Homo sapiens: one gene and its partners. The protein of the gene in region 1 purifies or fractionates together with the protein of each later gene. This does not show direct contact. Each region holds a gene or a part of one and is shown on either strand. Other genes may lie near its edges.

What was found.
Region 2: the proteins of REPS1 (region 1) and AP2A1 purify together in Homo sapiens (co-immunoprecipitation; 2 studies listed by BioGRID and IntAct, with this or other methods). This does not show direct contact.
Region 3: the proteins of REPS1 (region 1) and TRIM11 purify together in Homo sapiens (affinity purification with mass spectrometry; one large-scale study listed by BioGRID and IntAct). This does not show direct contact.
Region 4: the proteins of REPS1 (region 1) and SGF29 purify together in Homo sapiens (affinity purification with mass spectrometry; 3 studies listed by BioGRID and IntAct, with this or other methods). This does not show direct contact.

What each region holds. Positions count from the first base shown.
Region 1 is NC_000006.12:138,946,466-138,950,546, forward strand, and holds part of REPS1 (ralBP1-associated Eps domain-containing protein 1), read right to left. Parts: intron 1,449-4,081; coding exon 1,325-1,448; intron 1-1,324. UniProt on the Homo sapiens protein: May coordinate the cellular actions of activated EGF receptors and Ral-GTPases.
Region 2 is NC_000019.10:49,780,211-49,784,000, reverse strand, and holds part of AP2A1 (AP-2 complex subunit alpha-1), read right to left. Parts: intron 3,597-3,790; exon of another isoform or gene 3,409-3,596; coding exon of another isoform or gene 3,291-3,408; intron 2,245-3,290; coding exon 2,176-2,244; intron 2,055-2,175; coding exon 1,912-2,054; intron 1,471-1,911; coding exon 1,277-1,470; intron 1-1,276.
Region 3 is NC_000001.11:228,396,836-228,400,625, forward strand, and holds part of TRIM11 (E3 ubiquitin-protein ligase TRIM11), read right to left. Parts: intron 331-3,790; coding exon 308-330; intron 275-307; exon of another isoform or gene 213-274; coding exon 112-212; exon of another isoform or gene 1-111.
Region 4 is NC_000016.10:28,560,130-28,563,919, reverse strand, and holds part of SGF29 (SAGA-associated factor 29), read right to left. Parts: intron 1-3,790. UniProt on the Homo sapiens protein: Chromatin reader component of some histone acetyltransferase (HAT) SAGA-type complexes like the TFTC-HAT, ATAC or STAGA complexes.

The DNA.
Region 1 (4,081 bases):
ATGATTACTTTCGTCTCTGTTTAGAACCTCCACATGAAGGAAGGAAACTATTAAGCTTATTCAATATACATGTAAAAGAATTCAAAATTACCTGAAAAGAATGTAAACTCCCAACACTAGAAGAATGATGTGTGGCAAACTAGAGGTCCACAATGAAAACCTCTACCGACCAATAAACTAAACTGGTACTTAAAACTATTTCTACAAATTCTGATATTTACAGAATTTTACAGAAATTTTTCTGTACAGATTATTTTTAAAATCTTAATTTTTCTCTTTCCCCTTTACTCTATGAAAATGAAAGAACCCTCTGCATTTAAGTGCCTTTCTTTATAGAATTTCTATCTTCTTTCACATCAACAAGCCTCTAAATACTTGAAAAACAAATTATCTGATGTAACACTTCGATATGGTTTGACTCTGTGTTCCCACCCAAATCTCATCTTGAATTGTAATTCCCACATGGGAGGTGATTAGATCATGGGGGCGGTTCCCCCATGCTGCTCTTGTGATAGTGAGCAAGTTCTCATGAGATCTGATGGTTTAAATGTCTGTGGCTATTCCCCCTTGCTCTCTCTCTCTCTCTCTCTCTCTCTCTCTCTCTCTCTCTCCTGTGGCCACATAAGATGTGCCTTGCTTTCCATTTACGTTCTGCCACGATTGTAGGTTTCCTGTGGCCTCCCGAGCTATGCAGAAGTGAGTCAATTAAACCTCTCTTGTTTATACATTACCCAGTCTCAGGGATTTCTTTATAGCAGTGTTAAAATGGACTAATACAAACTTGTAATGTGGTCAGATGTCTATAACTAGATTTTAGTCTGCCAATATTTTAATATTGTCTCTTATCGATCAAAAAGTTTAGGTTAACTGTTACTTCTTAATTTCAACTGAAGCCTCCACAGCCTTCCCAAACAAACAAACAAACAAAAATACAAAGTATAATGTTGTTTTATTGGAAATGAAGAACACAGGGACGCTATACATGAAGATGGTCGCTGTAATTTATCATTTACCTTAATAAAACTATTCGCCTAAAATATTTCTAAACAACTTTTGGTAAATTAATTCTTAAAAAATTGCCATTTGAACAGTACATATAGTCAAATACAGATGAAGTACATATACTATGCCGTAATACAGGTCAGACATATTTTTCTAGTATTTTCAAGTGAGAAATGCAAGGTAGTGGGAATAAAGTCACGACACTTCACTCAAGGTCACAAATGCCACTATAAGATCAGAAAGACACAAGAGTTCTATTGACTTGACTTCATTTGTAATAGAAGCCTATTTTCTTTCGGTTACTAGTGTACTCTATATTTACCTGTATTTATACTTTCCACTCTTAAAGGGAAACCAGACTGGGCAACAGCTACAAGTTTCAAAGCAATGTAGAACTGACTTCTTCCAAAATAACCAAGTCTTGTTGCACCACAAAGCTCCATGATCTATAAAATAACATAATGTTAACATTAAGATTCACAACAAAAATCTCCCTTCAAAAATAAGCAGCTACCCAACTTGTTTGTAACGTCTCAAAATATCTATCTAATAGATGGTATAATACTCACAACTGACAACCAACTTCCTCAAGTTTCAGGTTCATATGTTTACAAACAAAAAGTCACTGCTTTGCAATAAGGTCATCATTCTCCTATTTATCAAAATCCATATGATTAGCAATTTTCTTAGAATAAATTTTTGTTATGAGTCACATTTTTAAAGAAACAACGTACCACCCACTCTTATTCATAAGCACTGCACATACAATAGGACCATGTGACTAAGAGACTATTATGCAGCCATTTAAAGTGACGGTCTTTAAATGATATAACAACATGGAAAAATACTAAGGATTTATCAAGTGGGGAAGAAAGGCAAGATACCTAATTTTAACCACATAAATACAAATTTGGAAACTATTTTTTAAAAGTCTATCACAATTTTTTCAGATGAGATTGAGTCGGGTTTTCCCTCTTATTTTCCAAATGTGTTTAATATGGCTACACTACTCTTCTTTAAAACAAACAAAATTTGTCTTTTTTAGAGCATGAAAGTGTTCAAGGATCTACATTAATCATTCCAGTCTTTCAACAAGTATTTCTAGACTTGCTAGCACAAGTAAATATTAGACTCAAAAAATAGGATTTCAGATTACAAAATCATAACTCTAAAAGCTGGAGGTTTCTACTATGCAGATATTATAATCTTATCTTAAAATAAACACTAGGCATGCCTGTTGTATCTTTTCAAATAACACAAACTTTTGTATAGAGAGAGCAGTTTTAGTCTATTTTTCCATAACACTCAAAGGAAGATAAGGTATCTGAGATGCTGTGGTATTAAGTCTGAATAAAACTATTCACAGGACTTCAAAAAAAGGACCTATTAATGATTAAGCAATTGTATCACAACAATAACAGCCATTTATTTACATACACAAAAAAGAGTCATTTTTGCTGGCTGACCAGCACTGGAAGAAGTTCCTGTTCCTGCCACTAAGGAGCATGTCCTTCTGAAGAAATGTAAAAGGGCAAAGAGAATAAACAGGCAGGTTAACACCATCAAGGGAACTATGAGGAAAAGGGGAGTTTAAAAAGGCAAGGTCATGCAGCCCCAATCCTCTACTCTTCTGCCCACTTGACGCCTCTTAGAGGTTCATTACATATCTTAAATACTTTTGTTTATATAACAATGCAACTAACATATGCCAGGTATATGCTAGACAGAGGGAAGACCTAAAAGGAGATCACAGTATGGTTTGTTGACATTTTGGGAAGACACCAGGGAAATGGTTAGAAATGAGGAGGTAGTGTTCAAGAAGGGAAACAGAATCTCAATGCTGTTTTAATTGGTATTTATTAAAAGTTTTATATTTGTTAGCCATTTGCATTTCTTTTCCTGACTTGCCCAACTTGTTCTCTGGCAACTTTAAATGGACTGTTAATCTTCTTTACTCATTTTAAGAAGTTTTATTGTGGCCAGGGGTAGTGGCTCATGCCTGTAATCACAGCACTTTGGGAGGCCAAGGAGGGCAGATTACTTGGGATCAAGAGTTCAAGACCAGTCTGGCCAACACGGTGAAACCCATGTCTACTAAAAATACAAAAGTTAGCCAGGTGTGGTGGTGCGCACTGGTAATTCTAAGTACTCGGGGGGCTGAGGTGAGAGGATCATTTGAACTCGGGAGATGGAGGTTGCAGTGAGCCGAGATCATGCCACTGCCCTCCAGACTGGGTGACAGACTGAAACTCCATCTCATAAAAAAAAAAAAGGTTTTATTATATTATACATATTGACCTGCAAACTGTCATGGAATTAATTCATTTATTCAATGACTATTTACTGAGCATCCTCAGGAAGGAAAGACCAGAGTGTAGCTGTAAGTGTGTGTAGAATTGATGGGGAGGAGGGAATGCAGCAGATGGAGCTGATGACTTAGGCAGAAACCAGATCATATTGCACATGTTGTTTTCTAGTTTATCTGTTTTTTCCAAAAAAGCTGTTTTGGTGATACAGAATTTTCCAATTTTTATACAAGCTTGTCATTTCCCCTTTAGGACTTTTGGGTTTGCTAGACTTAGAAAAAAGGTCTTTATACATGTTTTCTTCTAGAATGTTTATGATTAATATTGAAAATATACAAGTCTGACCAAACTGGAATTTATTTTGGAATGAGAAACAAATCAGATATCCTTTTGATCCTCCTCAATAGTTAACTATTGAGGCCAGGAGCAGTGGTTCATGCCTGTAATTGCAACACTCTGGGAGGCCAAGGTAGGAGGACTGCTTGAGGCCAGGAGTTCAAGACCAGCCCTGGCAACATGGTGAGATCTCATCTATACGAAAAAAAATTTAGTTAAAAATTAACTGGATGTGGTGGCACATGCCTATAGTCCCAACTACTCAGGAGGCTGAAGTGGGAGGATCACTTTTGCCTAGGAGTTCAAGGCTGCAGTAAGCTATGATGGTTTTACTTCACTCAAGCCTGGGCAACAGAGCAAGACTCTGTCTCCCCCCGCAAAAAAAAAGAATAAGTTAACCATTTATTTAAAAACTCATCTTTTCTCCATTAACTTGA
Region 2 (3,790 bases), on another chromosome or scaffold:
GCTCGTGTTTGCTTCTGTGAAGCACTAGGGAACCTCCAGTTTCCATCACTTTAAACTAAAGGTTGACTTAGGGGCTTTTGGACTACCCAGATAGGGTAAAGTCAGGCTGAAAACCAGTCTGAGGGCTGCTCCGTGCCAACGTTTCAGACAGGTAATTTTCCTCATAGTCCCCAAGGGGGTTTATTTCTAGGTCACTCTCACTTTGAAGTACAGCCTTCGAGAACTTCTCGGACAAGCTTTGTCTTCTGTTCCCAGAGGCTGCAGGGCCCCAAAACCGATACTCGGGTTCACCCAGTTCAGCAAATGCCTTCTAAGCAAATGCTGGCTCCAGCACGCGGCTCATCTGCTTGGGTGCCCGGCTTCTCTTAGCTTGTGGCCTGTGTGCTCCTCATTTTCTGGCTACCTCATGAATCCATTAAATAATATTGTCTTTCCTCTTTTATCCAATATTGACAGTTAGGTTTCAGGGAGAACATGAGTCGGGTATCTAGCTGACCACACTGCCAGAAATAGAAGTCTCACCTGTGTGCACACCAAGCTGGAGTACACTGGCGCAACCACAACTCATTGCAGCCTAGGCCTCCCCAGCTCAGGAGATCCTCCCACCTCAGCTTCCCGAGTAGCTGGGACTATAGGTGCACGCCACCATGCCCTGGCAATTTTTGGTATTTTTAGTAGAGATTGGGATTTTGCCATGTTGCCCAGGCTGGTCTCAAACTCCTAGACTCAAGCAATCTACCTGCCTCAGCCTCCCCAAATGCAGCGATTACATGAGCCATCGCACCTGGCAAATTCTACACTTCATCCTGCAATTCTTCCATCACCATTTGTCTCCTGCTCCAGACCATGAACACAGGAGGGCAATGACCGTGTCCATCTCTGGACAATACAACATCCCCAGCAATCAGCACAGTGCCTGGCACATAGTATGTGCTCAGTAAATGTTTGGTGAATGAATGGAGAAGATGAGGAAGTTCTGGAGGGCCGTCACCCACATAGCACAGTTACGCCTCTTATCGTAGGTGTTAGAATTCTGCAGTTCAGAAACACCCCACTGGCTTTGCCGGGAGCAGCCTCACACCATCAAGTCAGCTTCGTATCACGGGAAGAGACAAGTATGGGGCTGCCACCGGAACCACTGGGTCCCCAGCCCAGCGTTAGCCCACATCTCGGCTGGGAGACCTTGGGCAGGCAACAGAGCCTCTCTGAGCCTCACACTTGGCTGGGACTCATCACCCCCAGGCCCCCCACTGCCAACGGGTCCCCAGTGCCTTACCCGGCCACCAGGATGCGGGGGATGTCAGCGGCAAAGGCCTCGCCCATCTCCCGGCTGCCCACGTTGGCGATGCAGTGCAGGGCCAGGCACATGAAGGTGGGGTTGCGGCTGGCCAGGTCATTCTTGATGGCGTTGTTGATGAGGCGGATCAGCTCCGAGTTCGAGTTCACCAGCACAGAAATGAACAGGTAACCCTGTGGGGAGGGAGGTCGTGGATGGCTAGGAGCCTTGTGACTGAGTGGCCCCAGATCCAACCCTCAGACCCAGGAGTCCAGGCCCCAGATTCAACCTCAGACCCAGGAGTCCAGGCCCCCAGGCCCCTCCTCCCTCAGACCCACAAGTCCAGGCCCCCAGGCCCCTCCTCCCTCAGACCCACGAGTCCAGGCCCCAGATTCAACCCTCAGACCCAGGAGTCTGGGCTTCCAGCCCTCCTCCCTCAGAATGGGGAGTCCAGACCCCCAGCCCCCTCCTCCCTCAGACCCAGCAGTCCAGAGCCCCAGACCCCCTCCTCCCTCATACCCAGGAGTCCAGACCCCTAGACCCCCTCCTCCCCCAGATCCAGGAGTCCAGACCTCCAGCCCCCTCCCCCGCAGACCCAGGAGTCCAGGCCCTGGCACCCCCCTCTCCAGACTCACTATTTGCTTCTCTGTGTATTTATTGGAACTCAACAGATTCACAGCCTCCATGTGCCCAAAGTCAATGTCATGGCCAAGCAGGAAGATGAAAAGCAGTTTACACACATATTTTTTCTTACTGTAGCCATCCAAGGCTTTGTCTCCTAGGGCAGAGGAAGGAGGAAAGGGGAGCCAGAAATAAGGAAGGGTCACAGGATAGGTCACAGGAGCCCCAGCTCCCAGCCCCCTCCTCCCTCAGAACCAGAAGTTGGGCCCCCAGCCTACCTTTGAACTTGGAGCGGATGTTGGCCAGTTCCTTGTTGATTCTCTTAATTTCCGCCTCTTTGCTCTTACCTGGGAGAGGAGGAGGAGGGTAGGCAGTGAGGGGTCTGGGGAGTCAGCCACCTGCCCTCTCTTTCCTAGGCGCGGCCCCACCCAGCAGGAAGGGCAGATCTTCTCCGCCCCCAAGCCCTGGGGCTCAGGACAGGCCAGGACCCCTTCTCTGGCTGGGAGTTTCAAAGAGGGAAGAACCACCGCTGGCTGAGCCCCACAGCACAGAGCACACACCCTTGGGCTGTCCCTGACTTCCTCTCTCCTTCCTCCTACCACTGTGGCCCCTGATTTGTGGGGCTCCTCAGGGCCCCAGACACGCTCCCTGAGAGCTCCTGTCCCCACTCCCCACATGCGATGAACATGTGATGAATGAATGAATGAATAAAGAGCTTGGCTGGCCGCAGGGTGCTCACCCCTACCACTGAGCTCACTGCCTCTTCCAGTTCTCAATCCCATGAAGGTCCCACTGTCCACCCAGTCACCAGGTCAGACCCTTGGGTGCTGTCCTCACCCCCTTTGTCCCCACAGCCATGGCTTTGTCCTCTCCCGCGTGGCCTGTCCCCACTGCCTCCTGTTCTCTGGCTGCCAACCTCTCCCCAATTTGTCTGGGACATTCCTACACCTCTGACAGGACCTGCTTGTGGAATAAGCACAGAAAGCCTCCCCTGATCCTGCAGGCCAGGTCTCTGCTTCCTCCATGCTCCTCAATGCCCTACAGCACCCCCTTCAGAGCACAATCCGACTGGATGCTCTCGGCTGCCCTCTCTGCTTCTCCTGTCCCTGTTCCACTCACCCCAGACTTCATCCCTCCCTTGACAGGTTCTACCGTTCCCTCTTCTCCTCCAAACAGAACCTGGACATCCTCACGCCAATCGGGCTACTGCCTCGTCCTTTTAATTTTTGAGACAGGGTCTTAGACTGTCGCCCAGGCTGCAGTGCAGTGGTGCAATCATAGCTCACTGTGACCTTAAACTCCTGGGATCCAGCGATCCTCCCACCTCAGCCTCCCAAAATGCTGGGATTACAGGTATGAGCCACTGTGCCCAGCCACCTCCTCCTAACTTGACCTTCAGAACATGTCTTGAGCACCTCCACGATGACCACTTCATCCAGATCCCATGCTCGCTCGCTCAGGTCAGTGAAGCAGCCTCCCCTCCAGCCTTCTTGCCTCCCTCGTGTTTCCATATCCTGGGCTCTGTGATGCCAGCTGGGGGTGCTCCACTCCACGGCCCATCAAGTCCTCTGCCCCTGTCACAGCAACCCTGCCGGTGTCACCCCTCAGACCCCTACTGTCCATCCAGGCCCCCTGGCCTCCATTTTGCTCCGGGAACACGCACATCCTCTTGCCTCAAGGGCCTTCACACAAGCTGTGCCCTCTTCCTGGGGCCACCCCTCCCCTGTCATCTTCCCATCATTTGGGTCTCGGCTCCTGCCACCCCTGAAAGGCCGTTCCGTTTCACTTCCTTAAAGTCAATTCTTTATTATTCTGCTTAAAGAGTTATTTTTCAAGAAGTCCTCTCTGGTACATTTCACCATGTCACAATTTTATTTCTCTCCACTGTCGAAC
Region 3 (3,790 bases), on another chromosome or scaffold:
CTGTGAGTTTGGAGCTGGCAGTGGCAGGGCACAGAACACGTGGCTGGCTGCCCAGGTCCTTGGCAGGTCCCCTCCTGGAGTCATCTCCCCACCTGGGGCCTCCACACCTACCTCGAAACCTCCGCAGTGTCTCTACCAGTCCCGGGACCCTGCACACGGTCCTCAGCTCCATAGGCACAACTTCTGGGGGCTGCAGCTTCACATCCTGGACCCTAGAGGGGACAACCCAGGTGTTGTCGCCATGGCCAACAGCTGGGTCCCACCCCACTCCCTCCTGCCCCCCCTCCAGGAGAGGCTGGGTTCGTACCTGCGCAGGGCGTCCTTGATGTCCTATGTGGGGAGGAGAAACAGCACACTCGGTGTCAGTGACCATCGCTTGCTCCTGGAGTCCCCTCCCCGCCCCTGGAGCCTCGCCCCGTCCCCCTCTCCTACATTTGAGCGTCAGGCAGCAAAAACACACACAGGGGGCCATAAACCACCCGCAGCAAGGCTCAGACACAGGAATGCTGGACAGAGGCTCTGACATGTGTGCCAGGAGGCATCACCAATGGGGTGCAGCCCAGCCCTGCGGACCAAGGCCCACTTCTGCCTGACACTTGGATGTAGGGCATCTGGCTGTTGGCTCACTCACCCAGAGCCCCAAGTGGGCGCCTCTGGGTGCCAAGGACAGGACAGGCACACATCCCAGCCTTCAGCATAGGGGCACCTCCACCCCAGCTGGAGCCCAACCCTGTGGTTGCACTGCTTCCTCTCCCAGCTCCACCTGCCCTGCAGGCTCCCTGCTCAGCCCCACTCTTGGGCGTGCGTCCTTCCTGTGTCACTGCCTGATACGTGATAGCATCTGACTCCATGTTAGGGCCCGAATTGTGTCCATCCCGCCAAATCCGTATGTTGAAGCCAGAAACTTCAGGACTTCAGAACTTGACTATTAGAAAAAAGGGCTTTTAAAGAGGAAATCATAGTAAAATGAGGCCATTAGGGTGGGCTGCAATCCAAAATAACTTGAGTCTCATAAGAAGGGGCGACTAGGACACAGACACCCACAGAGGGGAGACCCTGTGAGGATACAGGGAAGAAAAGGCATCTACAGGCCCAAGAGATAGGCCTCAGGGGGAACCAGCTTTGACCTCAGTCTTCCAGTGTGCAGGACTGGGAGACAATCAGTCTCTGCTGGGGAAGCCTCCTGGCAGGTGGTACTAAATGTGGCAGCCCGAGCTGGCGTGATACACCCAGGTATTGGAACATCAGCTCTTAGGAGACACGGTCTTGTATCTCTTAGAGCAGTCTTCAGTGCACTGCAAGGATTTAACCCACACTGTCAAATAGACGATCCCACACCATGTTCATTCTAACACACGTGGTGCCAGCTACCAGGCCAGGATGCAGAGGTCAGTAAGACATAATCCCAGACAAGGGTTTCCCTACATGTAGGAGAAATGGCAAAGGAAGATTTCCACACATACGGGTAGTTAATTCTGTCTAGGGGGACAACAACACACTCTAGGCCCCAAAAATTTTTTAAAAAGGAGGCCAGCACTTTGGGAGGCCAAGGCAGGCAGATCACTTGAGTCCAGGAGTTCAAGACCAGCCTGGGCAACACAGCAAGGTCCCATCTCTAAAAAAAAATTTTAAAATTAGCTGAGCTTGGTGGTGTGTGCCTACAGTCCCACCTACTCAGGGGACTGAGATGGAAGGATCGCTTCAGCCCAGGACATCGAGGCTGCAGTCATAATCACATCACTGTACTCTAGCCTGGGCGACAGAGTGAGACCCTGTCTCAATAAATAATTCATAAATAAATAAATAAAGAGGAGACTCTTGGTAGGGTTCTGAAGCCCAAGAAGAATTTGTTGGTAGACACAGGGGGAGTGCGCAGGGTGAGGGAGGGGTGTGCACAGGGCAGGGGCAGATGGTGCTGGTGTGAGCAAGGCAGCTGGGAGCAGCTCCACCTTGGTTATTCTACCTGGGGTGGGCGGCCCACCCCTGGTGTCATTTGGAAACAGGTGGTGGCTGTCACAAGGCCGGGTGCAGGGGCGGCAGGAGAAGGGCTTGGGGGTAGAGGAGAACCTTGGCCTCGACAAGGGGGTTTGGTCTCTGCACAGAACACGGGCCCTCCAGGGGCAGCATTGACTTGAACAAAACCACTCTGCGGCTACAAGCAGGGCCTGCTGAAGGGGGCAGCCAGGACCCCAGAGTCCATAGCAGCCAGGGCCCCAGAGTCCACAGCAGCCAGAGCCCCAGTGGGTGGATTCCTGGGAGTCACTCAAGCCTTTACCTCCACTGTGCAACCCCTGTCCATTCGGCCTGGGTGCTGGGAACCCGGGTTGGGTTCCCCTACCCAACCGGGGGCCAAGGGTGCAAAGCCATCCCCACCTGTCCCTCTCAAACCAGCACACAGCTCACATCAACACAGAGCTGCTGAGGCTGCTCTCCTGCAACCCCCATGTGGGCAGACCCCCACAGCATGCAGGCCATGTGCTGGCAGGTTGGGGGGACAGGAGGGACCTCCCTGAAGCCTTGTAGCCAGGCCAAACCTGGGCAGGGAGCTTGGCCAAGGCATGGACGGGTGGGCCACTCAGCGGGGTGAATGCAGGTGGGTGTATGAGACCCAACACCCACCCACCCGCCCACATGCCACAATGTCTCAGCTGAAAGCCCAAATTGCATCTTCACACAAACCCTGTGGGTCCCCATTTCCAGGTCAACTCACCTTCCTTCTAAACCCTTCCTGGCTTCTCCAACACCTGTCCTCTCTGCCCTCCCTGAGGGCTCCTCCTCAGTCTTCTGGGTACCTCCCCACCCCACAATTTACTGACCACAGGACCCTCTCCTAATATTCCTCAGTCTTTCTACAGACGCTAGCCGAGCGTCCTTCCCGCTTCCCAGGCTCAAAGCCAGCTGATGTCCAAGCTGGTGCACGCGGCACACGGAGTGGAGGAGCAGATGCTGCAGACTTGGAGGTGGGGGAAACTACCTACTGGGTACAGTGTGCACCATTCGGGTGATGGCTACACTCTGACTGCACTTGTACCCCTTAAATCTACAAAAAAAAAAACAAAAAAAAAAAAACAAAAAACAAAAAAACAGAAAAAAGCTTACAATAGAAATGACAATCGAAACCAGGAGCCGGTGCCTGGACTGATGTTCTGCTGGGCTCCAGAGGCCGGCAGCAGGTCACCCCCTGTGCAAAGCCGCCCAGCCACATCTGCAGCATTGTGGGCTCCACCTGGGTCTGGCAGCCCTGCCCCACCAGTGGCTGAATTCACTCACACACGGCCTCTCTCCTCTGTGGGAGCCAGAATTGCCCAGGGGCCCATTTCCCTCTGAATCTTGGGGCCCCTTGAGTCTACACCATGCTGGGCATGGAACACGTTCTCCATTTTGTGGGAAAAACATCCAGCTGAACCCCACGGGAAGATGATAGCAGACACTCCCAGCCCACACGGGGCCTCTCAGCATGGGAGTGCCGTCAGTCCTCATCAGTGCACGCTTGCCAAGCGGAGAGAGCTGACTCCAGGCCCCCTGACCTGCCGCCAGGCCACAGGCCAGGGCGTCCACTGGTTCTGGTTTGGGGGTGCACCAAGGAAAGCCCAGGCCCAGGGGGCCGGCTCAGGGAGTGGAGCCCACACATGGGAAAAGACTCTCCTGGAAGCAGAGGAGGAGGAGACTGCCCCCCATAATGGAGATGCATGGGGTGTGCCAGCGGGGTGAAGACAGAGTGAAGGGCGAGGACTTCCTGCTGGGGACACCATGGCAGGAATCCTATGGGAGGCCCAAGGTGGTCCCAGCG
Region 4 (3,790 bases), on another chromosome or scaffold:
CAAAAATTAGCCAGGTGTGGTGGTGTGCGCCTGTAGTCCCAGCTACTCAGGAACACCTGCAGTCCCAGCTACTCAGGAGGCTGAGGCAGGAGAATCGCTTGAACCCAGGAGGTGGAGGTTGCAGTGAGCCGAGATTACGCCACTGCACTCCAGCCTGGGTGACAGAGCAAGACTCTGTCTCAAAAAAAAAAAAAAAAAAAAAAAGTCTGTTTCTCTAGAAAAACACACACACACACAAAACTGAGTAAACAATATATGCACGTAGTAAAAAAATTCAGATTATTTTTGAAATACAACGAAATCTCCTATCGCTACAGGCAACTAGTTGTTTCTTGGGTATTCCTTTAAAGATATCCCATGTACATATAACAAGAAAAAATGGTGTGTATCTCATAAAAGCTTTTGCTGACAAAGACACACAGATAGACACACAACACACAGAGGTTGAAACTTTCAGGGAGAGAGCTGACCACGTGGTCTGGAAGATCACTGTGCCTACTGGGTAGTGCCTAGCCTGGCAGAACCACCTCATTTTGTAATTTCACAATAAGCTCTTGCTATCCCTGGATCCCATCAGCCACGAACTTTCAAAGTGGACCATCTAACTGTGCCCACTGCCTTGATGTCCCTTGCCTCTGGCACGTATCTGGCGAATGGCAACACACTCTTACCACGCAAACATCCTCTCTTCTTTGTGGCCTCCTTGGCTACCAACAGTTATTACAGAACCTCTGCCTCCCCAGAGCACTCTGGTCACCCCTGTTTCCAATTATCTCCCTTTTTCCCCTAATTAAGGTGAAAGAAAAATGCAACATTAAAGGATGTTTTAAAGCAAATCCCAACAACCTCAAGTGATTTTCATTCTGTATCCACCTTCTGTAAATGTTATATAACCACAATCAGAGCACACACACCCTTTTAAGACTGCTTTCTATGTGTGGAAGAGTCTTCTACTCAGACTTCAAGCCCCTTAAAAGTAGAAGAACTAAGTCTTTTTTTTTTTTTTTTTTTTTTTTGAGACAGGGTCTCACTCTGTCACCCAAGCTGGAGTGCAGTGGCCCAATCTCGGCTCCCTGTAGCCTGCACCTCCCAGGCTCAAGTGATCCTCCCACCTCAGCCTCCCAAGTAGCTGAGACTATAGGCATGTACCATCACACCCAGCTAATTTTTAAATATTTTTGTAGAGATGAGGTCTTGCCTTGTTGCCCAGGATGATCTCAAACTCCTGGGCGCAGGCAATCCTCCCGCCTCAGCCTCCTTAAAGTGCTGGGATGACAGGCATGAGTCACCATGAGCGGCCAAGAACTGTCTTAATGGATTGTCTTTGCATCTTGGTACCCAAAATAAAGCCTGAAATACAGGAGGGCTTGGATCCCCATTTGTCAGACCTTACTTGGGAAAACACTGAAGAGGCGAGCAGCATGCCCAGCATCAATACAAGTATAATTTCCCACAAAGAAATGAAGTACGCCACCTGCCATACAGCCATCAGGGAAAGGAACTGGACCTTCATGTTCCAGGAATAGTCCAAGGAGGGGGAAGGGAGAGAACAACTGTAAAGTTCTCATAAAGCCTCACACTCACCCTGGATGAATTATTTAACCTTTCTGGGTCTCAATAAAATTAAAACAAGAGCACCTACTTGATGATCAACTATCTAAGAAAGGTCCTAGGCAGTGGCCGGCCCAGAGCATGCACTTAGTGAACGCTAGTGGCCCTTCTCATCTGGAGGCCAGGGGTCTGCTGTTACACTGAGCAAAAGAGCCAATCGCACAAGCAAAAGAAATGCTGACGCTTGCCAAACCTAGGAATAACCCCACGATGATGGCCTGGCCAAAGACCACACCATTTAAGGGCTCTCGTTTGAGCTTTGCCTACTGGGTAGTGGCTTGTCTGAGAGAACAAGCTCTTCCTATGATTTTACATCAAAGTGCTGCTATCTCTGGATCTGGTCAGTCATAAGTCTAAACTTCCCCAGGAAACATGTTCTAAGTAGAAGCAAAGGTTTCTGTGACCTTCTGAGAACAAATGCCAAGCCTGCTGGTGCAAAGCAAGTGGGAATGAGGCCCTGGGGTTGGAACCATAATGAATTGGAAGGCCAGATGAGGGGACACTGCACTTCCAGGCCAAGTGGCTGGTTTTATCAGAGTCCGAGGGTGCCAGCTAATCTTATCACAATTCTATCATGTAAACAAAACTGTCCCAAACCCTGAGAGGCTCAGCAATTCCAGCAAGGTTTCAAGCATTCTTAGGAATGCTGAGGTAACGCCCAGTACCCTAAACTTTTTGACTCCTAGCATGCTCGTGTTCCCACTGACTTAGAAGGCCACATCTTTTCTTTCTTTCTTTCCCCTGCACCTTTTGTGTTTTTTTGTTTTTTGTTTTTAGAGACGGAGTCTTGCTCTGTTGCCCAGGCTGGAGTGCAGTGGTGCGATCTTGGCTCACTGCAATCTCCACCTCCAAGTTTCAAGCAATTCTCCTGCATCAGCCTCCCAGGTAGCTGGGATTGCAGGTGCCAGCTACCGCACCCAGCTAATTTTTGTATTTTTAGTAGAGACAGGGTTTAACCATGTTGGCCAGGCTGGTCTCCAACTCTTGACCTCAGGTGATCTGCCTGCCTCAGCCTCCCAAAAAGTACTGGGATTACAGGCGTGAGCCACTGTGCCTGTCCAGCTAATTTTTAAACTTTTTGTAGAGATGGGGTCTCACTATGTTGCCCAGGCTGGTCTTTAACTCCTGGGCTCAGGCGATCCTCCCGACTCAGCCTCCCAAATTGTTGGGATTATAGGTGTGAGCCACCACACCTGGCCTGACGAAGTTTTAATAACTGCTTTAAATTTTTAAAAAAATTTATTTTAACTAATTATTTTGATTCTCTTTTAGAATTCTTGTCAGTTGATACCAACATCTGGGTCCTCTTGGGGTTGATCTTCGTTGATTGCCTTTTTTTTTTTTTTTTGAGACAGAGTCTTGCTCTGTCACCCAGGCTGGAGTGCAGTGGTGCGATCTCAGCTCACTGCAAGCTCCGCCTCCCAGGTTCACGCCATTCTCCTGCCTCAGCCTCCCAAGTAGCTGGGACTACAGGCACCCGCCACCACGCCCAGCTAATTTTTTGTATTTTTAGCAGAGACGGGGTTTCACCATGTTAGCCAGGATGGTCTCGATCTGCTGACCTCGTGATCCGCCTGCCTTGGCCTCCCAAAGTGCTGGGATTACCGGCGTGAGCCACTGCGCCGGGCCCGTTCATTGCCTTTTTTTGTAAACACAGATCATATTTTCCTGTTTTGTAAAAATATATTTTAAAATTTTCGTTCTTTTTTTTTTTTTTCTTGAGACAGAGTCTCGCTCTGTTGCCCAGGCTGGAGTGCAATGGTGTAACCTCGGCTCACTGCAACCTCTTCCTCCCAGGTTGAAGCAATTCTCCTGCCTCAGCTTCCTGAGTAGCTGGGATTACAGGTGTGCGCCACCACGTCCAGCTAATTTTAGTATTTTTAGTAGAGATGGGGTTTCACCATGTTGGTCAGGCTGGTCTCGAACTCCTGACCTCGTGATCCACCCACCTCAGCCTCCCAAAGTGCTGGGATTACAGGCGTGAGCCACTGTGCCGGGCCCATTCATTGCCTTTTTTTGTGAACACAGATCATATTTTCCTGTTTTGTAAAAATATATTTTAAAATTTTCGTGGTTTTTTTTTTTGAGTCAGAGTCTTGCTCTGTTGCCCAGGCTGGAGTGGTGGCACGATCTCAGCTCAACCTCCACTTCCTGGGTTCAAACAATTCTTGTGCCTTAG